Homo sapiens: one gene and its partners. The protein of the gene in region 2 purifies or fractionates together with the protein of the main gene of each other region. This does not show direct contact. Each region holds a gene or a part of one and is shown on either strand. Other genes may lie near its edges.

The links.
Region 1: the proteins of CCDC91 (region 2) and CCDC102A purify together in Homo sapiens (affinity purification with mass spectrometry; 2 studies listed by BioGRID and IntAct, with this or other methods). This does not show direct contact.
Region 3: the proteins of CCDC91 (region 2) and C10orf88 purify together in Homo sapiens (affinity purification with mass spectrometry; 2 studies listed by BioGRID and IntAct, with this or other methods). This does not show direct contact.
Region 4: the proteins of CCDC91 (region 2) and STARD7 purify together in Homo sapiens (affinity purification with mass spectrometry; 2 studies listed by BioGRID and IntAct, with this or other methods). This does not show direct contact.

Annotation. Positions count from the first base shown.
Region 1 is NC_000016.10:57,533,246-57,540,651, forward strand, and holds the start of CCDC102A (coiled-coil domain-containing protein 102A), read right to left. Parts: upstream 3,327-7,406; 5' UTR 3,255-3,326; intron 1-3,254.
Region 2 is NC_000012.12:28,193,237-28,200,758, forward strand, and holds part of CCDC91 (coiled-coil domain-containing protein 91), read left to right. Parts: intron 1-5,706; exon of another isoform or gene 5,707-5,820; intron 5,821-7,522. UniProt on the Homo sapiens protein: Involved in the regulation of membrane traffic through the trans-Golgi network (TGN). Functions in close cooperation with the GGAs in the sorting of hydrolases to lysosomes.
Region 3 is NC_000010.11:122,936,970-122,944,491, forward strand, and holds part of C10orf88 (ATPase PAAT), read right to left. Parts: intron 1,191-7,522; coding exon 736-1,190; intron 1-735. UniProt on the Homo sapiens protein: ATPase that regulates mitochondrial ABC transporters ABCB7, ABCB8/MITOSUR and ABCB10. Regulates mitochondrial ferric concentration and heme biosynthesis and plays a role in the maintenance of mitochondrial homeostasis and cell survival.
Region 4 is NC_000002.12:96,198,468-96,205,989, forward strand, and holds part of STARD7 (stAR-related lipid transfer protein 7, mitochondrial isoform 1 precursor), read right to left. Parts: intron 1-7,522. UniProt on the Homo sapiens protein: May play a protective role in mucosal tissues by preventing exaggerated allergic responses.

The DNA of each region.
Region 1 (7,406 bases), on a different chromosome or scaffold from region 2:
CTTCAGGCCCAGGGTCCCCTGGAGCGGGTGTGTGGGAAGGGGTGGGGGTCGGGGTCCTCAGGGGAGTTTTCTGGAGAAGCCCACCCCGCCCCCAGCACACCAGGAATCCTGCACTCCCACATAGACCCAAGGGCAGCCAGACCCTGCCTTGCAACGCCTCCCCCTACCCTGCCCCACTCATACAGCACAGCCCTGGGGACACACACTCACATACAGCCCCAGTAATGCACACATTCACACACACACCCCCAGGGACCCGCACTCACACACAGCCCCAGTAATGCACACACTCACACACACACCCCCAGGGACCTGCACTCACACACAGCCCCAGTAACGCGCACACTCACACATGGCCCCAGGGACCCGCACTCACACACAGCCCCAGTAACACTCACACTCACACATGGCCCGAGGGACCTGCACTCACACACAGCCCCAGTAACGTGCACACACACACATACAGCCCCGGTAATGCACAGACTCACACGCAGCCCCAGTAACGTGCACACTCACACACAGCCCTGGTAACGCACACACTCACTGAGGGGCAGCAGCAGCGCAGAGCATGGCTTACAGTCGTGGAGATGCCCCAGCTGCCCTGCCCGCCCCTTCCACCAGGCTCAATGCCCTCTTGCCATGGGGTGTCTATGTGCGTGGGGCGTGGCCTCCTGTTCCCTTGGCATACTGCCCCACCAAGGGGCAGGTCACGGTGGGACCGGCCACCACAGGCCCCGGGGAGCCTTTCCTACCCCACCCTTCGTTGTCCTGCCTCCCAACAGCCAGACAGGTCTATTACTGCTTTAAGTCTCTGGGTTTGTATTCCAAATGCCCATGTCCCAGACTCCAAAACCCCCACCCATCTTCAAGTTCAGCTGCCACCAACTCCAGGAAATGCCTTGATCTCCCCAACCCCACCCCCACCTGGGGACCACAGCCCTACAACCTCCCACAGCCAAGCCTGGCAAGCTGCCATCTCTCTTCTGGCAGTACAGGCTTCCCTCATCCAGATGGGACACTTGTGCCACTTAGAGCTTCCATCAGGGCTCCTGAACCCCAGCCCCACAGCTGTGCTCACTGGTAGCTCACTCCAGGACAGAAACAAGAATATTTTGAGCTGACACTTGCTGCAGGCTAGGCCCTCATCAGCCCTGCCCACAGAAAGTGACCCAGTGGTTCCTGTTGCTTGTGGACTTGTCTGGAATATCTCTCCTTCCTTCATCAGCAAACTCCTACACATCCTTCAAAACCCACCTCCAGTGTCCCCTCCCCTAGGAAGCCTTCTCTAACCTCTCTGCACAGAGTATGCTCCCAAAGCACCAGGCACCTCCGTGTTCTACAGCAAAGGCCTTACTTTGAAGTCCACGAGCGAGGGCATCAGCACAGGGCCCAGCATACAGCAGATGCGTGATGGATGGAAGGTACCCCTAAGAAGGTGGTACCACTCTTAGGGGTACCCTTGTGACCATGCAGAGTTTGGGAAGGTTGAGTCATCCTAAAGATCAGGAGTCAGTCGGTGGCCAGGCTCTGAGACAGGTAGGTATCTGAGCCTGTCTGGCCAGGGTTGGAATAAGAGGTCATCTCACGGCCAAGTCGGCTGTCCCACCTTTTACCTGGGGAAGCCTAATTGACCCACTGGGAACAGCGTTGTGTTTTGTCCTCAGCATGTTTGGATGGGTCTCTCCATATCAGTGAGAGGAATGAGCAATGCCAAGGCCTGGACAGGGGCCAGCTGAAGGGATGGGGAGCCCAGTGCCCCAACCCCTTCCCCGGCTCTGAAACCCTGTAGATCCTCCCAGAGCCTTTCAGGTAGGGCCCTGGGACAAGCCCATGGCCACAGGCCTGGCTGTGGACAGAAAGCAGAGCCCAGTGGGAAACCACAGAGGACAGCCTGATTGAATAAGTGCAGGGCCCAAGGCTGGTCAGCCCACAGACTGCGGGCACCTGTCCCTGTGACCTGCTGCCCAGGATCCAGCTGCAGGACCTCTGGGGGGAGCTGGCTGGCGGGAAAGGAAGGGATGGCGGCTAGGCCTCCAGGCTGGACCTAAGCCCAGGGGTAGGCACCCCTGGCCTATTCCCAGGTAGCCCCATCTTAGACTGAGGAGCCACAGAGACAGCCTGGATCATTGATTTGAACTCCTTTCTTTACATATGGACCAACTGAGGCCCAGAGGGACAGCTACGTGTCTGTGTCCACACCGCGGACCAGCAGCAAGGCCAGAGTAGGGAGCTGGTGATGGGATGCCTCCTCTTCTGGATCTTAGCCACCTGAGGGGCACAATGCCCCCGAGAGCACCTACACGATGGGGTCTGCAGGCACCAGGCCAAGTGGATACGCACAGCTGGAATGGTGGGGTGAACCTTCATGGGGACCCAGCCCCACCCCGACCCCAGCCCCACCCCTCTCGGCAACACCGTGAACTCTTCACTCTTGTACAGCAGACATCCCGCTAGTCCCAGCTCCATCACTGATATGCTGTGTGATATCTGCAAGTCCCTGCCCTCTCTGGGCCTCAGTTTCCTTACCTACAGGATGGGGAGAGGCACTAAAAAGATTCCTGAACGCTCTAACAGGTGGGCAGACCTCCCGAACCCAAACCAATCCAACCCCCACAAGAGCCCTGGGAGAGCGGGGGTGGGAAGGTGGACACCACCCCCACCTAAGGTACTGAAACTGAAGCCCCAGCCCTGCGTCGCCTTAGTCCTCACTTAGTCGACCCCTCCCAAGCCGCTGGCCCTGCGAACCGCCCCGCTCCACCTAGCGACGGGCGGAGGGTGGAGGGGGTTCCCGGCCCGCGCCGCGCGGTCCCGCCCACCCCACCGCATGGCCCCCATTGGCAGTCGCCGCGGCTCTGGGCAGGGCGCCGTGCTCTGATTGGCCAGCGCCGCCCGTCCATCCCGCATTCGCCATGGCGACCACGTTGGGTCCCCCGGGAGAGTCCCAAATTCCGTCCCCGCCCGCCGCCCCCTCCCGTCCGGCCCGGGCCGCGGCATTCCGGAGGCGCCTCCCCTCCCCCATCACCCCGCGGCCCCTCCCCACCGGAGACCTGGGGTTCCGGGGGCTGAGGGAGGCCGGGGAGGCGTCTAGAAAGTTCTGCTCTGAGTTCGGGGGTTGCCGCGGGCGCCCCGACTGTGTCTGCTCCTCCAGCACGCCCCACAACTTAACCCCTTCCTTCCCGCGGAAGGCGCGCGGCCTGGAGCAAGTTCCCGGGCCGCCTTGGCCTGCCGCCCCCCGGCCTGCCGCCCCCGCTCACCTCGGGCCGGGACTTGCGGGCTCCGTACGTCCCAGCCGCTGCGGCGGGGTAGAGCGGGCACCGTGCAGCTGCGACCGCCGCCGGAGGGGCCGAGGGAGGGCCGCGGAGTCTCCTCCTCCCTCCCGGGGGGAGGGGAAGCAGGGGGAGCGGCGGGGCCCCCGAAGCGGTCGCAGGCTGCGGCCCCGCTGTGACCCCGGCCCACCGAGCTGCTGGGGTGGGGGCTCCAGCCTAACTTCGGGGCGAGGGGTGCGGGCCGGGGCGGTGGGCTCTGCTGCAGAGCGGGCCGTACCCCAACGGAGGCCCCACCCCCGTGAGGGGCCGAGAGTTGCGGGGGGGCTCGGCTTTCTTGGTTCAGGTTTCCTCAGCGCCAACTACGTACTAGGCGCCCCCAGCAGAAACGGCCACCGCGGGTCCCAGCTCGGCACGTGGAGCGAGCTTACCAAGTCTTCACTGTTGTTACCTGCATTTTTCCCTGGGCCAGCTCTGCCACCGAGTGGAAGTGGGCCAACAAGTCTGTGCCCATCGGGCCTCAGTTTCTCTTTCTGTACAACAGAAGGGTTGACGAAAGCAACCTTGCGCTTGTTAAGAGGTGGGGGGCGCGGGGAGCACTCGGCCCGGCGGGCGGAGACTTTTCTCTGCATTGCGATGGTGGTTGGCAGGCCCTGGGGAATTACGGTACTTCGCCTTCGGGGACGCCCAGCTGTTTTGGGGCTTTCTCTCTATTGGGGGTAGGATGTTTGTGGTCTTGACTGGAAAGCCGGGACAGGCGTCTGGAGGACTCCCCACTACATCCTGTACCCTGGAAGGCCCCCGAGGTGAATCTATTTAAAAGAAGACCAACAATTCACCAAGATGGTGGGGAAAACCTGGCCTGATTGGGATTTTACCTAGAAAAAGAAGCTAAATATTACGAAGATAAATTAGTTTTACCCCGTGATTAACGGAGTTTAGATTATGATTGCAACCACGCACGCCTTAAAATGAACCAAGAATGAATCAGATGTTAACACTGGAAGTCTTGCTTTTTCTTGTAATAGTTGAGTATGTAGCATCCTTCCCTTCTGAACTGGTTTTTGCAGTAAGAGATTCATTTTTGCAAAAATATTTGAGAGCTTCCTCAAACTCAAGGATCACTCTGAATCCTTTGATAGTCCAGTGCCTTTTTTCGGGTCTGGGTCACTTCCCTTGCAGACGTTCCCTTTCTCTGTGGGCAGCGGCTGTTCCATTTCTCCTGCTTTGCTTCCACCAACTTCATGAAATCCCATACGTTGCAAGACTGGCAGTTTCACTTGTCGATTCATTTGCTTTGTATTTGTTATGCGTGGCTGAATGTTGAAAGCGTCTGTTCACCAGCCAGAGATAGATAGGAGATGTATGTGGGGTTTGAGTACTCAGAGGACAAGGGCATCCACATTTTACAGCTGAGGAAATGAAGGCTCAGAGAGGCTCTTGGCTCAGACTTGCACAAGGTCCTACAGCCAGTAACAGCCTTGGATCAAGAGCCCAGAGGTCTTGCCCAGAGTTTTTGGAGGTGGAAATGGGGCTGGGGAAGGTGGTGGAGACTGAGTTGATGGTGCACCTGAACTCCAGCTATAACCTCATCACTATCAGGCCTTCTCTCCTTAGGAAGAAGCAGTAAATATTGTCCTGAGGATGTCTTTTGCAGGGGCTAGGGTGGGGTGACGTGACCCACCCGATCGTAGAACCAAAGTAGGTGCTGGCCACAGGTTTTGGCAGCTCGCATGATGTTATCTTAGTTACCTAGGGGCTGGGTGTTATTACCACCCTCTCATAATGAGAAAAGTGAAGATCAGAAATGACTGGACTGGGCACGGCGGCTCACACTTGTAATCCCAGTGCTTTGGGAAGCCAAAGCGGGAGGATCGCCTGAGGCCGGGAGTTCAAGACCAGCGTGGGAACATAGGGACACTCTGTCTCTACAAAAAGATAAAAAGTTTAGACAGGTGTGATGGTACGCTCCTGTAGCCCCAGCTAACTTGGGAGGCAGAGGCCAGAGGATCGTCTCGAGTAACTGGCCCGGGGTCACCCTATGAGATGTCAGATCCCAGATCTGACTGTTTCAATTTTACCATAGTTCTCTTTCTAGAACAACACCCCCAGGCGCCTCTCTGAATGCAAGGCTAATCTGGCGTCAACCTCCCCAGTGGTCTCGGCAGGGTTTCTCTCTGGCAGCCTGTCCCACTCAGTTCAGGACAGTCAGGTTTTTGAGGCGTGTGTCAATATTTCCCACACTTCAGCAGTTCTGTTTTCCTGTATTACTGCCACCACTTTTTGCCACTAACACATGCCCTTATTTACCTAGCATTTTTCTTTAAATCATTTCACTTTGTAGGACCTACTTGTATCTTAAAGCCTATTTCATATAGCTAGGTAAATAGAAAATTTGTATAACTTGCCACAAATAGAAAAAGATCATAAAAATAAATAGTATGCAAATAAAACAACGTTAGTAAAGTCTAGCTAGAAACGTTCTCTTTGTTAAGAAGGGGCATCATTTCTACACCCATGTTGATTGTAGCATTATTCACAATAGCTGAAAGGTGGAAGTAACTGAAGTGTCCATCAACAGATGAATGAACAAAATGTAATATGTATTATACACATAGTGGAATGTGATTCAACCTTTAAAAGGAATGAGAGTCTGACACACTACAACACGGAGGAACCTTGAAGACGTCATGCTAAGTGAAATGAGCCAGTCACGCAAGGACAAAGACTGTATGATTCTACTAAGATGAGGCACTTAGAGTGGTCAAATTCAAGAGACAGAAAATAGAACGGTGATTGCTAAGGGCTTGGGGGAGTAGAGAACAGGAAGTTCTGTTTCATGGGTATGGAGTTTCAGTTTGAGAATATGAAAAATGTTTTGGACATGGGATGTGGTGATGTTTGCATGACAGTGTAAAGGTAGATAATGCCATTGCACTGTACCCCTTTTTTTTTTTTTTTTGAGACAGGGTCTCACTCTGTCACCCAGGCTGGAGTGCAATGGTTCGAACACAACTCTCTGCAGCCTCGACCTCCTGGGCTCAAGCGGTCCTCCCACCTCAGCCTCCTGAGTAGGTGGATCTACAGGGGCACGTTACCATGACCAACTAAATTTTTTTTTTTTTTATAGAGGCAGGGTCTGCTATGTTTCCCAGGCTGGTCTCGAACTCCTGGGCTCAAGTAGTCCTACCACTAGGGCTTTGTCCAAAGTGTTGGGATTATAGGTGCGAGCCAACCCACCTGGTCTGAATCTACACTTAAAAATGCTTAAAATGGTAGCTTTTGTTACATATATGTATGTGTGTGTGCGTGTATATATATATATATCTTACCACAATAAAACATTTAAAAGTCAGACGTCCTGTTTTGAAGTCTAATAAAAGATTGAAAAATGGGGAAAAATAAGGGACATAGTCTGTGTTAGAGAGGGGTTAAAACAATTTAGCCCTCGGCGGGGCACAGTGGCTCACACCTGTAATCCCAGCACTTTGGGAGGCAAAGGTGAGCGGATCACTTGACTTGTCAAGAGATCGAGACCATCCTGGCCAACATGGTGAAACCTCATCTCTACTAAAAATACAAAAATTCGCTGGGCGTGGTGGTGTGCACCTGTAGTCCCAGCTACTTGGGAGGCTGAGGCAGGAGAATAGCTTGAACCTGGGAGGCAGAGGTTGCAGTGAGCCGAGATTGCGCCACTGCACTCCAGCCTGGCGACAGAGTGAGGCTCTGTCTCAGACAAACAAACAAACAAACAAAAAACAAAAGAAACAGTTTAGCTCTAAGCTGAGGCTTTTGCTGGACACAACCAAGATTGAAAAAGATGTGTAAATGACTTTTTTTGCATTGTGACTGTTTATCTAAAGTCCTGTCGGGGTCCCACCTACAATCTTCTTGCAGGCTACTCACCAGGGTAAGTAGCCCCCATATAGGGAGACACTTTACTGAGATGGTATGTGGCCTCCTCCCTGCCTGGGGGCCTGAGAGGAGACTGGCAGGCTTCCTACTGCTCAAGCATCCAGAGTGTTTTGTAGAGGAGCAGGAGGCAGAGAAGCCTTCCTGGAGGAGCAGGAGGCAGAGAAGCCTTCCTGGAGGAGGCAGGATCCAGTGGAGCCCTGATGGGTGGAGAGGAGCTGGAGGGCTTCC
Region 2 (7,522 bases):
GTTTTCATTTCTTTTGGTTACACATCTAGGAATGGAATTCTTGGGCCGTGTGCAAGTGCATGTTTAACCTTAAAAGAAATTACCAGCTGGGCGCAGTGGCTCAGACTTGTAATCCCAGCACTTTGGGAGGCCGAGGTGGGCAGCTCACGAGGTCAGGAGATTGAGACCATCCTGGTCAACATGGTGAAACTCCGTCTCTACTAAAAATACAAAAATTAGCTGGGCGTGGTTGCGGGTGCCTGTAATCCCAGCTACTCAGGAGGCTGAGGCAGGAGAACTGCTTGAACCAGGGAGTCGGAGGTTACAGTGAGCTAAGATCGTGCCACTGCACTCCAGACTGGTGACAGAGTGAAACTCCGTCTCAAAAACAAAAAAAAAAAAAAGAAGGAAATTACCAAACTGTTTTCCAAGGTAGCTGTTTCATTTTGCATTCCCGCAAGTGATGTTTGATGTTCCAGTTGCTCCACATTCTGGTCAGCACTTGTCATTTTATTTTTAATGTTAGCTATTCTAATATGCGTTTAGTGAAAACCCATTTATGTTTTAATTTGAATTTTTCTTCTAACATATTGAGCGTCTTTTCCTGTGCTATTATTTGCCATCTGTGTATCTTCTTTGATTAAGTGTCTGCTGAAATCGTTTGTTCGTTTTTAATAGGGTTGTTTGTTATTGGTTTGCAAGTGTTTTATACAGTCTGGATACAAATTCATTATCGTATATATGTTCACAGCATTTCCTTCGAGTCTGAGTCTGTAGTTTGTCCTTTCATTTTCTTAACAGTATCTTTCAAAGAGCAGAAGTTTTAAATTTTGGTGAAGTCCAGTTTATCAGTTTTTTCTCTTATGATTTGTGCTTTTTTATCATGAGAAATTTTGCCTAATCCAACGTTGCAAAGATTTTTTTTCTTATGTTTTCTTCCAGAACTTTTATAGCTTTAAATTTTAGATTTAGGTCTGTGACCAATTTCGAGTTAATTTTTGCATATAGTGTGAGGTAGGGGTCAAGACTCTCTCTCTCTCTTTCTCTCTCTGTGTGTGTGTGTATGGATGCCCCAGTCTTGCAGCACCATCTCTTGAAAAAGACTATTCTTACTGTGTCCAGAATTGGTTCCTTCCAGTGGGTTCTTGGTCTTGCTGACCTCAAGAATGAAGGCACGGACCCTCGCAGTGAGTGTTACAGTTCTTGAAGATGGTGTGTCCGGAGTTTGTTCCTCCAGAAGTTCAGATGTGTCTGGAGTTTCTTCCTTCTGGTGGGTCCATGGTCTTGCCGACTTCAGGAGCAAAGCCACAGACCTTTGCAGTGAGTGATACAGCTCTTAAAGGTGGCGCATCCGAAATTGTTCATTCCTCCTGGTGGGTTTGTGGCCTTGCTGGCTTCAGGAGTGAAGCTGCATCCGAAATTGTTCATTCCTCCTGGTGGGTTTGTGGCCTTGCTGGCTTCAGGAGTGAAGCTGCAGACCTTTGCGGTGAGTGTTACAGCTCATAGAGGTGGCGTGTCCTGAGTTGTTTGTTCCTCCCAGTGGGTTTGTGGTCTCGCTGGCCTCAGGAGTGAAGCTGTAGACCTTTGTGGTGGGTGTTGCAGCTCATTGTTATAGCTCGTAAAGGTGGCGTGTCCGGAGTTGTTCGTTCTTCCTGGTGGGTTCGTGGTCTCGCTGGCTTCAGGAGTGAAGCTGCATACCTTCACTGTGAGTGTTACAGCTCATAAAGATAGTGCGGACCCAAAGAGTGAGCAGCAGCAAGATTTATTGCGAACAGTGAAAGAACAAAGCTTCCACAGCATGGAAGGGGACCCGAAGGGGTTGCTGCTGCTGGCTCGGGTGGCCTGCTTTTATTCCCTTATTTGGCCCCACTCACATCCTGCAGATTGGTCCATTTACAGAGAGCTGATTGGTCCATTTTACAGAGTGCTGATTGGTCCGTTTTACAGAGTGCTGATTGGTCCGTTTTGCCAGAGTGTTGATTGGTGCATTTACAAACCTTTAGCTAGACACAGAGCGCTGATTGGTGCATTTACAATCCTTTAGCTACACAGAAAAGTTCTCCAAGTCCCCTACCCGATTAGCTAGACACAGAGTGCTGATTGGTGCGTTTACAAACTGTTAGCTAGACACAGACTCTGATTGGTGCATTTACAATCCTTTAGCTAGATAGAAAAGTTCTCCAAGTCCCCACCTGACCCGGAAGTCCAGCCGGCTTCACCTCTCATTACTATCTTTTCTTCATTAAATTTCTTTGGCTTGCCTTGTTAAAAATCAGTTGAGTATGTTTGTGTGGTTTGCTTTGTGGACTCTATTTTGTTCCATTGTTCTGTGCGTCTGTTTGGCTAAAACCTCAGTCCTTATTATGGTAGCGTTATAGTGTATCTTGAAGTCAAAAAGCCTGAGTCCTCCAACTTTGTTGTTGTTTGCCAAAAATTTTTGAGTATTCGAGTTCTTTTTCTTTCCATGTACATTTTAGAATCTCTTTATTTCTATATAAAAGCATTGTGGAATTTTTAGTATGATTGCATTGAAGTTATGGATCCATTTGGGGAGAATTGACATCTTAAAAATGTTGTTTTCTAATCCATTAATAAAATACCTTTCCTGTCCCACTGCTATGGCTCATGCTTGTAATCCCAGCACTTTGGGAGGTCAAGGTGGGAGGATCGCTTGAGCCCAGGAGTTCAAGAGCAGCTTGGACAACATGGCAAAACCGCATCTCTACAAAAATGAGAAAAATTAGCTGGGTGTGTTGCCATGCACCTGTAGTCCCTGATACTTGGAAGGCTGAGGTGGGAGGATTGATTGAGCCTGGGAGGTAGAGGCTGCAGTGAGTTGTGATCATGCCACTGCACTCTAGCCTCTGCAACAGAGAGAGCCTCTTTCAAGAGAGAAAACAAAATGAAACAACCTTTCTACGTTTATTTGGTCTTTGATTTCTCTCTGTTTTTAAGCTTTCCGCATAAAAATGTTGCGCATATTTTGTTATGTTTGTATCTAAATGTTTTATGTTGTTTGGTTCTGTTGTAAACAGTAACCTTTAAAAATTTTTAAATTTCCAATTACTTATGTAAGTGAATCAGTATTTTAATATTGATCTTGAATTTTTGAATTTTACAACCTTGTTAAACTCACGAGTTCGTTCTAGTAGCTTTTGTAGCTACTGCTGTCTGCTGGTAGAGACAGCTTTATTTCACATTTTCTCATTTGTTTGCCTTTTATTTTGTTTTCTTGTCTCTTTGCACTGGCTAGGACCTTTGCTAATGTTAACTAGAACAAGTCAGATCAGCACAGATATCCTTGCATTGCTCTTCATCTTAGTAGAGAAGGTATACAGTCTTTTACCATTGAGTAGTTAGCTGTAAGTTTTTTGTGGATATCATTTTGACCCAGCCAAGGAAGTTCTCTTTAACTCCTGCTTAGAGCTTTAAAATTTAATCACAAGTGAATGTTATATTGCTTTTTTTGATTGTGAACATGATAGTTGATTACAGTAGAAAGTTGGAAATAAAGGAAGACTATAAAAAAAGTTACCCTATTTTCAGTAATCTGAGGTAACTGCTGCAAACATTGTGGTGGCTTTTCTTTCAGTCTTTTCTTTTGCAAATATATTTTAAAAACAAAATTGTTAATATTGTTTTATATTTTGCCCTTTTCACTCAGAATCACATTGGGAGTACTTGCATCATGAATTATTTTGAAAACTTGATTTGTAATGGTTATGGGTTATTGTGTTATATGGATATGCCCATCATTTAATGATTTTCTTATTGTTAAATAGTAAAATTGTATTTCAGTTTTCCCTGTTGAAATTAACATTAAATATTTGTGCTTAACTCTGATAATTTTTCAAAGTAATTTATAAAAATATGATTATCACTCAAAGTATATACATTTTTTTTTCAGGTTCTTATATCCACTGCCTCTGTTTGGTGCTCTTGAAATTTGTTCTTTAGGCTATTTATTGTAAGAAATTTGGGGTCAGTATCATTGGCTTTTTGGGCATCACCTTAAGGTAGAATCTTTGAATTTCAGAAACAGAGTTCCTTAGAAATCGGTCTAGTTCAAACCGTTTTTTAAGCGGTTTAGAGTCTGTAATCATTAAATAACTTTTCTGCCTATACTATTTTGTTTCCACTGATCTATACAGAATTACTGATGAATTACGTATAATGTAATATACCACCTGTGCTCTTCTTTTGATAAGAATTATAGAAATCTTTGTGCCTAGCTTCATGTAAAACCCTTTATGTATGTTGTTTTATTGAATTCCAACTGCTACTTTTTGGTAGTAACATTTTTTTCCATTTCATAGACAAAGGAAACTGTCTCCAAGTGAGCAAACTTACCTAAGGTTGTATTAATAGTAAGTGGTAGAGCTTGAGTTTGTTCACAAGTCTTCCTGAATCTGTGCTTTTATTTGTAGGCTATACTATGAGTATTATGTTATTTTAGGTATTTTGTATATATTATGTTTATTTTGAATATATTAATTTTAATGCTAACAATAAATTTACTAAGCAGATTAGCAAATTAGCATGAGATGTTATCAGTACTTCTGAAATGTTTGTCCAAATTTATATCCTCTTAAGTCTATTCTTATTTTCTAAGTGGCGTAAAGATTATTGTTGGCTATATGCCATACAATTTTACTTAAATAATTAGGATCATATTTACTGTGACTAGTAGAGGATACAACAATTTATTTATTTTGAAATGTGAAGAATTTTGTAATTATAGGTTTAATAAATGGAGATAAAAAATAATGTTAATTACTTTATAAAATGAGCTCTGTTATAATTCTGGTAAAACAATTTGTTTTCCTTAGAAGGATATGTACATTTTGGTATTTACATTTCAACATGGACTATGTGAATGAAATAATTAGTTTGTGAAGTATGAAATCACTTTTTCCTTGTATTCAGAGAAGGTTGGCTTTTCTGTGTCTACCACCTCCTATGTTTTTTATTATATTCAGCCCTGTGGTTAAAGAGTAGGTCTACATAGTCATTTTAAAAAGCTGCTTACATTTTATATTATGAGAATTCAGAACTTCTGCAATTGTAGTAAAGACAGTGCTGCAGTGTTATGCAAGATCCATTAATCTATGAATATGCTTCACTGACAGATGGGCTTATATGAATATTATTTAAAAACTACATGCTTAGACATCAGTAAAAGATAGTGATTAAAGATGAGATTAAGTATCATTTTAATTACGAATTTTATACAGACAACTTAAAATTAGGTTAGACCTTTTGCTTAGTTTGCCAAAATTGGGCATGAAAAACAAAATAAGCCTGTGAAAGCTGAATGACATTAAATGGGCCACCCTGAATCAGAAGACAAGTGGCAATGAATACCTATTTTCCATTTTGCTGAATGAGAAGAATGTTTAATAAATGGTGATAGTTTTCATGAGATATTTAGATATTTTAAGTTTTATCTCTTGTTGGTTATGCAGAAGAGATTTATTTCTCTTTTTATTCAGTCTAGCAATTTCTGACTTATGAGTGGAGTGTTGAATCCATTTACAATTAATGTATTTACTAATGCTTAAGGTAGTATTTATGTCTGTCATTTTGCTATTTTTTCTGTATATCAAGTAATTTTTTTCATTCCTTAATTACTACATTATTGCTTTCTCTGCCTTTTTTTGTATTAAGTATATATTTTCTAATGTACCATTTTAATTTCCTTGATGTTTCTCTTTTTTTTTTTTTAAGAGACAGAATCGCCTAAGCTGAAGTGTAGTGGCGCCATCATAGCTCACTGCAGCCTCCAGCTCCTTGGCTCAAGTGATTCTCCTGCCTGAGCCTCCCTAGTAGCTAGGACTACAGGTGTGTGCCACGATGCTTGGATAATTTTTTTATTTTTTGTAGAGACAGGTTCTTACTCTGTTGCCTGAGCTGGTCTTGAACTCCTGGCCGCAAGTGATCCTCTTACCTTGGCCTTCCAAGTGCTGGGAATACAGTTGTGAGCCACTGCACCCGGCCTTGACGTTTCTTTTACTAAATATTTTTTGAGTTCTCAGTGGTTGCCCTGGGACTTACAAATAGTACCTTATTTTATAACAATCTATATTAATTAATACTAACTAAGTTTAAGTTTACAAATTTTGTTCCTATATATTCCCTCCCCTTCCTTCATGCTATTATTGTGTAAGTTACATCTTTCTACATTAATACAGTATCCATTAACACTGATTTATAATTCTTGATTTATGCAGCTGTCTTTTCAATCACATAGGAGAAAAGAGCCACAACCAAACATACATTTATATTTTCTTTTATATTTACCTATGTAGTTATCTTTACCAGTGTTCTTAATTTCTTTATGTAGATTCAAGTATACTGTCTCTTGTCCTTTCAGTTCAGCCTGAGAGACCCAGGTTAGTATTTCTCATAGATAAGATGTGCTAGCATACATTCTCTTTGGTTTTGTTTATCTGAGAAAGTCATAATTTCTTCATATTCAAAGAATAGTTTTGCTAGAATTAGAATTCTTAGTTGGCAGTCTTTTTCTTTTAGGAATTTGAATGTATCTTTCCACTGCCTCTGGCCTCCGTGGTTTTTAGTGAGAAATCAGATAGGAAATCTTTTTGACGATTCCCTATTTTTGATGAGTTGCTTCTCTCTTGTTGCTTTCAGTATTCTCTCTTTATGTTTCGAAAGTTTGGTTATGATGTGTTACAGTGTGGATCTCTTGAATTTTATCCTACTTTGAGTTTATTGAGCTTCTTAGATGTATAGATTAATGCTTTTCATCAAATTAGAGAAGTTTCCTTGTATCGTTTCTTCAAATATTCTTTCTGTTCCTTCCTTTTTCTCCTCTTTTTCTGGTTCTCTCATTATGCATATGTTGGTATGCTTGATGGTTTCCTATAGGTCTTTGATGCTCTGTTTATTTTTCTTCATTCTTTTTTCATTCTGTTCCTTAGCCTGGATAATCTCAATTGACCTATCTTCAAGTTCACTGATTTTTGTGCCAGCTCAAATGTGCAGTTGAACTCTTCTAGTGAATTTTTTTTTTTTTTTGAGTGGTAGCTTTTCTATGTTTCTTTTTATTTATTTATTTATTTATTTTTATTGATTATTCTTGGGTGTTTCTCGCAGAGGGGGATTTGGCAGGGTCATAGGACAATAGTGGAGGGAAGGTCAGCAGATAAACAAGTGAACAAAGGTCTCTGGTTTTCCTAGGCAGAGGACCCTGCGGCCTTCCGCAGTGTTTGTGTCCCTGGGTACTTGAGATTAGGGAGTGGTGATGACTCTTAACGAGCATGCTGCCTTCAAGCATCTGTTTAACAAAGCACATCTTGCACCGCCCTTAATCCATTTAACCCTGAGTGGACACAGCACATGATTCAGAGAGCACAGGGTTGGGGGTAAGGTCACAGATCAACAGGATAAGAATTTTTCTTAGTACAGAACAAAATGAAAAGTCTCCCATGTCTACCTCTTTCTACACAGACACAGCAACCATCCGATTTCTCAATCTTTTCCCCACCTTTCCCCCCTTTCTATTCCACAAAACCGCCATTGT
Region 3 (7,522 bases), on a different chromosome or scaffold from region 2:
TAAATGTCAACTCAATCCTGTTGGTTGGTGGTGGCGTTTAGTTACAAAATCATCCAACTACCTCATTTTCAAATAAAATCTCTTAGGCTAAAGAATACTAAACAGTGTGGCAACATGTTTAAGCCAAAACCACACCTAGAGTCCTGAATTCTAGTCTAGAACACCATTTTGACATACTATATCTACTTAAGCAATTAGGAACATAATACTTAGCTATCTCTTAATCAAATATGTACTGCCAAAATAAGGGATTAAGAGACTGGGGATAATAGCTTGTAAACTACAAGTGATTATTATCCTAATATAGTTTTTTAATAATCAGGAATTTGCCTAGACCAAACATAATCTTCAAGGAAAATGTCACAATGACATGCTTAACATACCCAGGCACAAAATAGTACAAATATATAAAAACAACATAAAGATTATAATTCCCACAGCTCCTTTCCATTCATGCAAATCACTTTCTATTCCAACTGTGAACTAATACTTGTGACCCTTCCACAAAATGCCTGGGAAGTGTGCAAAACCTCCAGTTATAGGGACTTCTTTCAAAGTAATCCATTCTACTCTGCAGTTATCCCCTTTAAGTGTATTAATGGTAAAATGTAAAAGTTGCTAAAATTTTCTCTGGAAACAAATTTTAGGCAGTACTCATTGAGACAAATCTGTTTCCTTTCATCTGATTCTTCCACCTACCAAATCGAAACTCGTATGTCTTAAAATAATACTTACCCAACACCAAGAATGCGTTCACCATGCTTGGTGATGTTTTCCTGACACTCGGTCTTATTTCCCACATGGAGATGATTAACTTGACTACATAAATTCTGGAGAAAAGGCAGCAACTCGGAGTTGGGTATATTTGAGTTGTCACTTACTTTCTTTGGTAAGAAAGAGGCCATTGCATTTTTAAGATCATTTTCAAGAAAGGAATGGTTTTGAGGCATAACTTTACACTCATCAAGCTTGGTAGAATTCTCTCCACCAGGCAGTTGTGTACTTTTATCAATGTAAGTTTGTAAGTTTTCAGTCACGTTCCCAGATGTCAATCCAGTTCTAAAAGGAAAAGGTGTGGAGGACGACTTGTTTAAGGTTCCTAAGGTAGATGAGGATTGTAGTCCAATCATATGCTTGTATCCAGAATTGCCCAACACCGACTGAAGCTGCTCTCCAATGGGAATACAATTCTAAACAAGGTAAACAAGTAAATGTTAATATTAATAACACTGACAGCTAACTTTTGGAGTAATTACTATGAGTCAGGCACTGTGCATTGTTTCATCCAATCCTCAAAACATCCTTATAAAGTAGGCCACTAATACTATCCCAATATTAAGCTGAGGAGACCAAGGCTAAAGGTACCTAGCCAAGGTAACCAGCCAGTAAGTGGCAGAACTGGAACATGAACGCAGGTCACTTAACTCCACAGTCATGACTTTCAATCATTTCATTGTAGTTTTTCCCAAAAGAAATTAAATAAATACTAGCATGAATAGTCAAACTGCACTGACACTAATGTTTCCACTACAAATGTCTCTTTATGATAATAAAATGTACTACTCTCAACTGAGTCACAAGAACCGGTAAGTTTCTTAAAATTCAATTATATCATTCCCAACTGTCAAAATACGGTAAGTTACTCACTTTCATCTAGTAATATCTTTTGCAATGAATTTTTCCTGGAAACTACACAGATAGGTATGCTATTTAAAGTTAGATGCTCTATGGGTACATTTGTGACATTTTCAATGACTGAAATTAGCTACTTCTGGCTGTGTTTGCTCTAAGAATTTCCAGGATAATGAGAGTTGTTTTGCAGCCTCAATTCAACTGGTTATGCAGTATTATTTCCTGAGAAGATTCTGGCTTACCTTGAAGGGATGATTACAGTATCTCCCTTTTATGCTCTTTAATTTTTCCATTGGATAAAAGAAAATATCTCTAGCCTAAGTCTTAAGGCATATGGCTCCACTCTAAATTCAAAACATAAAAGTCTACTATAGATTCTTATCAGGGGTTATCATCCCACACTTATTGCTGTTCAACAGCTGGTGAAACAGACTGAAAAAGCAATATGTAAATTAGCTGAAGAAACTCAGTTCATATACTTATAGATATTCTAAAAAGTTATTACTAGACTAAGCCGGAACAACATTAATTTATTCAACAAATATTTACCAGGAATCTACTCTGTGCTAGTATTGTTTCAAGCACTGGAAATACAGCAGCGAACAAAATAAATTAAAATCCCTGACCTCACAGAGCCTATATGACAGGGGAGCAAGGAGACACAAACTACAAAAGAAAAGAAGGAAAAAGGGGAAAGAAAAGAAAAAGAGAAAGTAAGGGAAAGAGAAAAGAAGTGAAGAAGGAAGAAGAGAAAAAAGTCAAGAAAAGAAAAGAAAGGAAAAAATGTATCATGAAATGGAGATGGTGATAAATACTTTAGGGAAAAATAAAGTGAGAAAGGAGAATAATAAGGGCCAGGGAAGCTGGGGGAAGATTTGTAATGTCATGTCCCCATCTAACTTTTTACCAAACTGCACTTTGGAAAAGTGCTCTTTATAGAGAAATGTTAACCTACTGTAAGTTTATCTTGTTTTATAAAATGCAAGTTTTGAATAAACTTGAATATTTAAATATTCCTGGAATAAGATGAATTATGTAAAATTATATTTATAAAATGTTAACATTGGACAACTCCCCATAAGCTCAAAGAAAGTTACTCAGTCATAACAGGAAAGCCCATTTATTTCTCTATGACATTTCAAAACAAAATGTACAGTGGAAAACTACATTAAGAGTAATAATATTTACACTACAGTCAATGTCAAAAGTATGGGTGAACATTAAGTAGGCAGAACATTTAAACAGAAAAATCTAAATGTAAAGGTATTTGCTATGTAAATTTTTCCTTTCTGACATATAATATTCTGTTTATAAGAATTCACTGATTATGAAAATTAGTCATTGGTTAAGAATGTAAAATAGTATAGCAGTGATGAAAAACAGTATGGAGGCTCCTCAAAAAATTAAAAATAGAACTACCATATGATCTAACAATCCCACTTCTGGGCATATATCCAAAATAACTGAAACTGGGATCTCAAAAAGATTATCTGCACTCCCATGTTCACTGCAGCAGTACTCACAACCGCCAAGATACAGAAACAACCTAAATGTCCATTGACTGATGTATTGATAAAGAAAATGAAATGAAATATCATTGAATGAATATCATACAATGAAATACCATTCAGCCTTTGAGAAGAAGGATATTTTGTCATGTGACAATATGATCAATCTGGAAGACATGCTAAGTGAAATAAGCCAGGCACAGAAGAATAAATAATGGATGATTCCATTAACATGACATATCTAAAATAGTTAAACTCAGAAACAGAGAGTAGAATGGTGGTTGCTAGGAGATGGGGGGAAGGAGAAATGAATTGCTATTCAATAGGTATAAAGTTACAGCTTTACAAGATGAATCTGTTTTAGAGATCTTCTGTACAACAGTGTCTATAGTTAACAACACCATATTGTACATTTAAAAATTTGTTAAGAGGGTAGATCTCATGTTAAGTATTCTTACCACAATTTAAAAAAGGTCACATTTTCTGAGATGAGAGCTCTTTAGATGATCTTTTCTCTTTGGAATAAATATCAAGAAATTCAGATATGTCTACATGCCACTATAGGAAATGAAGAAATCTCAGGTGCCTGGTAGCTAATCCTTTATTTCTCTTTATGTGAGCCTCCACTGTTAACATGCTATTAAAAATTTTGAAGAAACTTAAATATCCATGAATAGGTAACTGCATAATATTCATAAAACCATAGAAAGCTGTATTTATTGATATCCTTTCAAGTGAAAAATGTTCCTGAGCAACATATGCAGTATGAAAGCATTTAGAGAGAACTGTGTCCATATACTTACAAAGATATGTGTATGTGTATATGTATAACTACATATATTCTGTATACACACAATAGAGATTTCTGAAAAAATAATAGTTTATCTTTAAATATATTGTAGGATTTAGGAAAGTATGAATTTCCTATACCTTTTTGCTTTTTAATTTTTTTGTATCACCTTTAATAATCAGAAAGAAATTAAATAATAAAGTCATTTTTATTTTGAAGGAGAAAAAAGCAAGAGTATAACTCCTAAATAACTGAATATGTTTTCTTTGAGAAAATGGGTCATATCCTTTCATTCAGATAACATTAAATGACAATCATATGCTACACCCTTTGATATAGAATTCCTATTCAAGAATTCTAAATTGCTAAAGCAAAAGCAAATCAAAGCCAGCAAACTGAACTTCAAATAGAAGGAAATAAAAAATAATCTTAATACTTATTGAGAAATCACAAAGGTTTGGATTGCATTTCAGACTCACAAAACTTGGCGTGTTGAACTTTAATCAAACTTTCGAGAAAACAAGTAATTCCAAGGCACAGGTAAGCCAGAGAGAAGCCAAAACTTCTGAGGTCCTTCCTTTCCCCCAAGAGAAGTCCTGCCCAAACAACATGTGTGATCACACCACTTACACGGAAGGAGTTGATTTGGTCATGAAACATTCCCATTTTATGTGCAGAAAGTTACACAGCTTATATGACATTCTCTATGCCTTAGAATGTATAGATGCCTAGTTTGTCATCAATAAGCAATCCTAGAGAACCAGGTACATCCTGTAAGAATCACTCCATAAATAAGGACTTTTCTTACTAGGAAGGAAGTCTTCCATTAGCATGTTTAAAAGGACACAGAACTGTTTATCACCTTCTTTCTTCCCCAGGGTGTCCCAGAAATGTCCCTGCATTAGTGGTGAGAAGAAAGTAAGTTATTGTACAGTGTACATAGCAGTAACCCATGAGTGTTGGCTGAGGGTGGGGTGGCATGGGGGAGAGCCTTCTGTGTTGCTACATGCATAAAAAAACTCTACAAGGATACACGCCAAACTGTTAGCTGTGTATCCTCTGGGGTATAGAATGACAGCTGGAAAACATTTTTAATTTTTACCTAACACTTCTGTATTGGTTAAAATTCATGGCAAAGAAAAATTATTTATAAATAAAACTATAAAAATTTAAAGACACAGCCAAAATAAAAATATATCTAGTTTCATTTTTTCCTAGTGTCAAGATTTTAAAATAATCAGACAGTAAACTAATTAATATCCTCTAATCGTTACCAAAATTTGTTCACAAACAATTGCTTCCTTTTTAAAATCTTCCATTAAAAGAGTTATTATCATGTAATCCAGCACATAAACAGAACCAAAGACAAAAACCACATGATTATCTCAATAGATGCAGAAAAGGCCTTTGACAAAATTCAACAACCCTTCATGCTAAAAACTCTCAATAAATTAGGTATTGATAGGACATATCTCAAAATAATAAGAGCTATCTATGACAAACCCACAGCCAATATCATACTGAATGGACAAAAACTGGAAGCATTCCCTTTGAAAACTGGCACAAGATAGGGATGCCCTCTCTCACCACTCCTATTCAACATAGTGTTGGAAGTTCTGGCCAGGGCAATTAGGCAGGAGAAGGAAATAAAGGGTATTCAATTAGGAAAAGAGGAAGTCAAATTGTCCCTGTTTGCAGATGACATGATTGTATATCTAGAAAACCCCATCGTCTCAGCCCAAAATCTCCTTAAGCTGATAAGCAACTTCAGCAAAGTCTCAGGATACAAAATCAATGTACAAAAATCACAAGCATTCTTATACACTAACAACAGACAAACAGAGAGCCAAATCATGAGTGAACTCCCATTCACAATTGCTTCAAAGAGAATAAAATACCTAGGAATCCAGCTTACAAGGGATGTGAAGGACCTCTTCAAGGAGAACTACAAACCACTGCTCAAGGAAATAAAAGAGGATACAAACAAATGGAAGAACATTCCATGCTCATGGGTAGGAAGAATCAATATCGTGAAAATGGCCATACTGCCCAAGGTAATTTACAGATTCAATGCCATCCCCATCAAGCTACCAATGACTTTCTTCACAGAATTGGAAAAACTATTTTAAAGTTCATATGGAACCAAAAAAGAGCCCGCATCGCCAAGTCAATCCTAAGCCAAAAGAACAAAGCTGGAGGCATCACACTGCCTGACTTCAAACTATACTACAAGGCTACAGTAACCAAAACAGCATGGTACTGGTACCAAAACAGAGATATAGATCAATGGAACAGAACAGAGCCCTCAGAAATAACGCCGCATATCTACAACTATCTGATCTTTGACAAACCTGAGAAAAACAAGCAATGGGGAAAGGATTCCCTATTTAATAAATGGTGCTGGGAAAACTGGCTAGCCATATGTAGAAAGCTGAAACTGGATCCCTTCCTTACACCTTATACAAAAATCAACTCAAGATGGATTAAAGACTTAAACGTTAGACCTAAAACCATAAAAACCCTAGAAGAAAACCTAGGCATTACCATTCAGGACATAGGCATGGGCAAGGACTTCATGTCTAAAACACCAAAAGCAATGGCAACAAAAGCCAAAATTGACAAATGGGATCTAATTAAACTAAACAGCTTCTGCACAGCAAAAGAAACTACCATCAGAGTGAACAGGCAACCTACAGAATGGGAGAAAATTTTTGCAACCTACTCATCTGACAAAGGGCTAATATCCAGAATCTGCAATGAACTCAAACAAATTTACAAGAAAAAAACAAACAACCCCATCAAAAAGTAGGCAAAGGACATGAACAGACACTTCTCAAAAGAAGACATTTATGCAGCCAAAAAACACATGAAAAAATGCTCACCATCACTGGCCATCAGAGAAACGCAAATCAAAACCACAATGAGATACCATTTCACACCAGTTAGAATGGCAATCATTAAAAAGTCAGGAAACAGCAGGTGCTGGAGAGAATGTGGAGAAATAGGAACACTTTTACACTGTTGGTGGGACTGTAAACTAGTTCAACCATTGTGGAAGTCAGTGTGGCGATTCCTCAGGGATCTAGAACTAGAAATACCATTTGACCCAGCCATCCCATTACTGGGTATATACCCAAAGGATTATAAATCATGCTGCTCTAAAGACACATGCACACATATATTTATTGTGGCATTATTCACAATAGCAAAGACTTGGAACCAACCCAAATGTCCAACAATGATAGACTGGATTAAGAAAATGTGGCACATATACACCATGGAATACTATGCAGCCATAAAAAATGGTGAGTTCATGTCCTTTGTAGGGACATGGATGAAATTGGAAACCATCATTCTCAGTAAACTCTCACAAGAACAAAAAACCAAACACCGCATATTCTCACTCATAGGTGGGAATTGAACAATGAGAACACATGGACACAGGAAGGGGAACATCACACTCTGGGGACTGTTGTGGGGTGGGGGGAGGGGGGAGGGATAGCATTGGGAGATATACCTAATGCTAGATAACGAGTTAGTGGGTGCAGCGCACCAGCATGGCACATGTATACATATGTAACAAACCTGCACA
Region 4 (7,522 bases), on a different chromosome or scaffold from region 2:
TTCCAAACAATTACACTATTTTATATTCACATCAGCAATGTTTGAGGATTCTAACTGCTCCACATCCTTGGTTCCAATTGCCCCACTTGTTATTGTCCATCTTTGTTATTCCAGCCAACTTAGTGGGTGTGAAATGGTATCTCATTGCGTCTTGACTGGTATTTCCCTAACCTTTTCATGTGCTTATACTAGTCTTGATAGTATCCTTTCATGCATAAAAGTTTTTAATTTTGATGTTTATTTTTTCTTTGATTGCTTGTTTTTGGTGTTATAGCCAAGAAACCACTGCCTAATCCAAGGTCATAAGAACTTATGCCTATATTTTCTTCTAAGAGTTTTAGAATTTTAGCTTACATTAGGTCTTTACCCCATTTCAAGTTAATGTTTGTGTATGATAATGAGGTAGGAGTCTAAACTCATTCTTTTGCATCTGCTTCTCCAGGTGACCCAGTGTCATTTGTCGAAAAGCCTATTCCTTCCCCAGTGAACTATCCTGGCATCCTTGTTGAAAACTGACCAAAAATGTAAAGGTTTATTTCTAGACTCTCAATTTTATTCTAACAATCTAGATGTCTATCCTTATGCCAGTACCACAATGTCATTACTGTAGCTTTGTAATAAGTTTTGAAATTGGGAACAGTGAGTCCTCCAAACTTTGTTCTCTTTTTTCAAGACTGTTTTTGCTATTCTGAGTTCCTTTCATTTCCATATGACTATCAGAAGTGGCTTGCCAATTTCTGCAGAACTGCCTAGGATTTTGATAAAGACTACACTGAATTTGTAGATCACTTTAAGTGGTATTGCCATCTTAGCAATATTAAGTGTTCTAATCTAATCCATGAACACGGGATGTCTTTCACTTATGTCTTTTTAAATTTCTTCCAATGATGTTTTGTTGTTTTTAGTGTTACAGTTTTAGTTGTACACTTGTTAATTTATTCGTATGTATTTATTCCTTTTATGCTACTGTAAATGAAATTGTTAATTTTATTTTCAGATTCATTGTTAGTGTACATAAACATGACTTCCGTGTATTGATCTTGTATCCTGCAAACTTGATGAACTCATTTATCAGCTCTAATTGCTTTCTGTAGATTCCTTACTATTTTCTAAATATAAGATCATGTCAGCTGCAAATAGAGATAGTTTTATTTCTTCTTTCCAATCTAAATGACTTTCATTTCCTTATGTTGCCTGATTTCATTGGTTATGACCTCCAGTACAATGTTGAACAGAAATGGTGAGAGCAGAATCCTCATCTTGTTCCTGATCTTAGGAGAAAAGCACTAAGTCTTTTGCCATTAACTACACTGTTAGCTATGTTTTTTGTAGATGCCTTTTATCAGCTGCAAGAAATTTCCTTCTATTCCCAGTCTGCTGAGTGTTTTCTTTTTTAATCACAAAAGGAGGCTGGAATTTGTCAAATACTTTTTGTGTTTATTCAGATGATCACGCAGTTTTTGTCCTTTTTTCTATTAATATGGTGTAATAAATTGATTTTTGTATGAAGAACCGACCTTGCCGTTCCTTAAATAAATCCTACTTTTCATGGCATATAATCCATTTCATATATTGCTGAGTTCAGTTTGTTAGTATTTTGTTCAGGACTGCGAAAAGTTGTGTGGTTTTTTTTTGTTTGTTCTGAGCCCAGGCTAGAGTGCAGTGGCATAATCACAGCTCACTACAGCCTTAACTCCCCAAGCTCAGGTGATTCTCCCACTTCAGCTTCCCAAGTAGCTGGGACTACAGACAAGCACCACCACATGCAGCTAATTTGTTTTCTGTATTTTTAGTAGAGATGGGGTTGCACCATGTTGCCCAGGCTGGTGTTGAACTCCTGGCCTCAAGTGATCCACTAGCCTGGGCCTCCCAAAGTGCTGGGATTCCAGGCGGGACTCACCGGCTGCAAAAAGTTTTAAAACATGAAAAACACCACCATATATTGTACTATGTATCACTATGTATCATTCAGGGGTATATACATATGTATAAAAACATAGGGAATTATATACAACAAATTGGGATAATGGTGACATCTTGGGGAAAAATAAGAATACAACTGGAAAAAGGTACAGAGGAACCCTAAGTATACTTGTAATATCTTATTTCTTAACATAGCTGTACTTGCAACGCTCGTGTTATTATTTAAACCTTTTTTATATATCTGAAACATTTTATAATAATAATTTTTTAAAACTTGGCTTGTATTTTTCCCATAACCTCTTCTTTTTTGAGACAAAGTCTCACTATGTCGCCGAAACTGGCCTCAAATTCCTGGGCTTAAGAGATCCTTTCACTTCAGCCTCCCAAGTAGCTGGCACAATAGGCGTGTGCTACCATACCCAGCTTCTCCGTGCCCTCCACCTCACCCTACCCCCTGCAACATTTAAAGAAAGGTTACAGATAAGAAACAAAAATTGCTGGCTGGCTGTCTTATACACTCTATTGCAATTCAAGACTGAAGAAGACCCAAATTACTGCTACACTGTCTGAAATGCCTTTTCACCCTTCAAGCTTCAAAAAACCACAAAGGTAACTGCTAGGCAGAGTTAACCATACACACTGATTTTTATTCCTTTACACAGGCATATTACACTATAATTAATCTATCTTTATATCTGCTTTCCTTACTAAACTATAAATTCCTTAATAGCCCAGAATCAGTCTTTTTCATATTTGTAGTTCCAGCTCCTAGCATGTCCTGGTAAACATTACATGTCCTGGTAAACATTACATACATTACATGAATAAATTTAGTAAATCAAGAAATAATAAAATGAAAATAGGCCTCAGTAATCCAAATTTTTATTAAAAGATTGCATTAAGGCCTGGGGCAGTGGTTCACGCCTATAATCCTCAGCATTTTGGGAGGCTAAGGTGAGCAGATCACTTGAGCCCAGGACTTCAAGACCAGCCTGGGCAACATGCAAAACTCCACCTCTAAAAAAAAAAAAAAAAAATTACACAACAAATAGCTGGGCGTAGTGGCATGCAGCTGTAGTCCCAGCTACTGAGGAGGCAGAGGTGGGAGAATCACCTGAGCCCTGGAGGTCGGGACTGTAGCGAGCCAAAATCATGCCACTGCACTCCAGCCTGGCAACAGAGTAAGACTCTTAAAAAAAAAAAAAAATTGGCCAGGTGCAACGGCTCACACCTGTAATCCCAGCACTACAAAAAAAAATTAGCCAGGCATGGTGGCCTGCGCCTGTAATCCCAGCTACTCAGCAGGCTGAGGCACAAGAATCTGTTGAACCCAGGAGATGGAGGTTGCAGTGAGTTGAGATCGTGCCACTGCACTCCAGCCTGGGTGAGAGTGAAACTGTCTCAAAAATATATATATATTGCATTAATATATTGCTGCAAAAGCCAAAAATTCAAAGGTATAGTGTCAATCCAAGATTAAAAGTTTAGAGCAATTCAAAATAATGGTAAGTCTAAAGATTTGTGTTCTAGTCCTGGCTCTACAGCTGACCAGCTGTGTGATCTTATTTTATTTTACCTTTAAAGTGAGGACGTTATTTCTTGAAGTCCTATTAGTTCTAAAATTGAATTTGCTGAATTTTAAGCTTTGGACTTGGATGAAAATATTTATATAGGGGAATATTTGTCATTTTGACTGCCTGAAATCCCTTTCTATTTGGAAAGAACCCAAATAGGTGAATGCAGCCCCCCTCCCGCCCACAAGCAGTTAAAGCACAGCTCCTAATTTAAGTGAGGTTAGAGACTTCTAGAAGGGGCTTTGCATCTTGAAGATAACACAAAGGCACAGGATCTTGAGGGAGCTGGGAGTCCAGGAGTACAACCAATCTGGGGGAAAGAATGCCAGCAACACTGCTCTAAGTAGATTATTCCTGCTGCAGGTCTTGGTCAACCTGTACCCTGGCCTTGTCAATACTGAGTGACCTAATACCGTTTTGATTAATTCCTTTTTGGCTTAAATTAACCAAGACCAGTTTCTTTGTTACAACCAAGAACCCTGACCAGCTGCAAAACCATAGAGAAACAGAGAAGGAACCTTAGGATAGGCATTTAGATGTTGCAGAAGAAGAGCAAAAGCAAAACCATAGCTAGATTTGCTCAGAGAACAATCAGGCACCATAGGGCATCGATTACAGCATTTTTGAGGTCTATAAAGCATCCTTCAACAATAACTAAGCACAACTCTTGAGTGTCATTCTTTAAAAAAAATTTTTTTCTTCATTGCCCAAGCTGGCCTCAAATTCCTGGGCTCAAGTGATCCTCCAGCCTCCCAAGTACAGGCACATGCCACAACACCTGGCCCGAATTATCATTCTTGCCACATAATAAAGGGGAGCATGTTTCCACTGGTGGAATGTCGTACTAAAACATCAGAGGCTCATAAAATAATTACATAGTTAATAAAGTTTTAAGAAAATTATTAACTATAGGCAACATTTTTTCATGACCTTCTAAGAATCAAGGTGGTTCAGAGCATCTGACCCACTGCTTAATCAAGCTCTCCTATATAATTAAAGGTTACTAGGTGGCTTTGACTAAAATTATGAAAAGGGACGGAAATGTCTTGTGGAGACACAGTATGAATGATAGAGCAAGACTGCTTCACGAAAATGTAAATGATCAAGTTATTTTTTCCCAAGGTTTAGGAATCCCTGAAGGGTCTGAACTTCTAAATGCTAACATGACAAGACCCAATTAACATACAGGAGCACAAAGTCATTCACTAACATATATGTGGAGAAAAGGAAAACCTCTCATGACACATCTCTTTAGGCTGCTGTGCCCAATCTTGTTTGGATGGGATGGGTGGCTAAACCTTCACATCTTAAGAGACTTAAGAGAGGACAGAAGGACAAAAGAGATTATTCCCAAAATAGTAAAATCAGCAGATTAGAAAAAGGATCAAGAAAAGAGAGACCATGCCTTTCTTTCTCCAAAACGAAAATCATTTCAATATCTGAAAAAGGCTGGACCGAAAGCTATAGAAACTGAAAGCAAACAAACCATGAAAACAAAGTAAGTGAAACAACATTTGGTTCATCTAGGGGTCCTGCCCTCAGCATGGAGCTTGGTGTAAGGCTCCAAAATTACTTAAATGAAACCATCCCTACAATTAGGAATTTCAGTCAGACAACAGCCTCACTTCACATAATTCTCCTCCTCTTCAAATTCCAAGTTATTGTCAAAGTCAGGTTCTACTGATACGGGACACACCTAGAAATAAAAGACATAGGAGTCAGGCGCAGTGGCTTATGCCTGTAATCCCAGCACTTTGGGAGGCCAAGGCAGGCGGATCACTTGAGATCAGGAGTTGGAGATCAGCCTGGCCAACACAGTGAAACCTTCTCTTCTAAAAATAAACACACAAAATTAGGTGGGCGTGGTGGGGCATGCCTGTAGTCCCAGCTACTTGAGAGGCTGAGGCAGGAGAACTGCTTGAAACCAGGAGGTGGATGCTTCAGTAAGCCCAGATCACACCGCTGCACTCCAGCCTAGGCAACAGAACAAGACTCCATACCCCCCAAAAAAAGACATAGAGCCAGGCGCCTGGCTCTCAGCACTTTGGAAGGCCAAGGCGTGAGGACTGTTTGAGGTCAGGAGCAGGAGTTCGAGACCAGCCTGGCCAACATGGTGAATCCCCGTCTCCACTAAAAATACAAAAATTAAACAGGCGTGGTGGCACCCCCGCTGTAGACCCAGCCACTGGCAAGGCTGAGGCACGAGAATAGCTGGAACCAGGGAGGCGGAGGCTGCGGTGAGGTGAGATCACACCACTGCACTCCAGCCTGGGCGACAGAGTGAGATTATGTCTTAAGAAAAAAAAGAGTCTGGGCGTGATGTCTCATGCCTGTAATCCCAACTCTTTGGGAGGCCGAGACAGGCGGATCACGAGGTCAAGAGCTGGAGACCAGCCTGTCCAACATGGTGAAACCCCATCTCTACTAAGGATACAAAAAATTAGCCGGGTGTGGTGGCAAGCACCTGTAATCCAGCTACTCAGTGGAGGCTGAGGCAGGAGAATCGCTTGAACCTGGGAGGCGGAGGTTGCAGTGAGCCGAGATCATGCCAATGCACTCCAGCCTGGGCGACAGGGTGAGACTCTGTCCCGGAAGGGGGCGGGAGGGAAGGGGAGGACAGGACAGGACAGGACATCAATTAGCTCATTGCAGTTCTAGGGCAACTAGTTAATGGTAAAATAATGAAGACAACCTCAAAAAATTGAGATCTAATTTTATGTAGCTCTGAAGATCTAACAAGGGGTTTAAGGGTTTACCAGTAAGATACCCTGAAGTGACAATGGCCAAAAAAAAAAAAAAAAGTTCCTTTAAGGCAAAAGGACTTTATGCGGATCATTTATCTAGTCAATAACACACTGAAGTTTAACATATCCCGAATGCCCTGAAAGACAGAAAAGAGAAAATGGCCAATTTTCTTTATGCAACTTTAATGGCACTTATTTACTCAAATTTCTGGAGCAATGAACTGTAACTTTTAAAAAACTATGAGGAGGTTAATGGAACATTTTCCCCTAGCCTTTCATTTCTTAACATCCTTCCTCTCTTTGTTCCTGTAACTTTTCTTTTTAACTGTTCCAAAGCAATCAAAAACATGACTACTGTATTTTTCCATTAGATTTGCCCTGGAATCACAGAATGCCAGCTAGCACCAAAAACAGCAATCCCAAGATATTTTCGTTGTTTAATTTAAGACAACTGGGTACTAGAGCAAGTATTAAAAGATCTGATTTCTACATCTGGCCACAGCAGCCAGTCAAAATCACTTCTCAAATTTTCTTGCTGTTGCTTGATTAATAAGACGCTATTTGGTAAGATGTTCTTAAGCACAAAAGACGAGAAGACAAGTTATGCTTTGTCATTCTGAATAGGACTCAAATAACATAAGGAAAACACATGCCACTTTAAGGCACACATTCAAAAAGACACCCTGCACATTCCACCCGCTTAACCAAAACAGCTATGTTAGAATTAGTTTGTGCCAGGACAAGTTGGTACAGAATCAGCACAGATGAGCCAAAGGCTGTGATTTAGGGGCCATGTGACAATCATGCTCTTTTTCCATTAACAATGAAAGAAATGCACTTGAGACACACTCCAACTGTGCTCCATTATGGAAGCTACCCAAAAATCATCTCACTAGAACAAACGAAATCCAAGATGTTCTAAGCTAGCTATGACAACCTCAGCAGTGCCTACTTTCAAGCAAATAGAATACTTAAACACAAAGCAAATAAGTTAATCTGTACCCAGAATATTTTAATAAAATATAAACATGACAAGCTATCAAAACAAAGACCTAAGGAACCACTGTGCAACCAAGATGTAGTTGTTGAATAGCATATTTGCCTTCCTATCACATTAACAAATATTTTAAAAAGAAAAAAAATCCTCAAGATGAACAACATGATCAAATTTTAATTACATGAAAAACCAAATTCAAGCATGAACCAAACAATGAAATGTTAAATGAGGGCCTTTACTATAACAACCCTAAGAAGGGTCAAAGTGCAGCTTGAAAGTGTTCT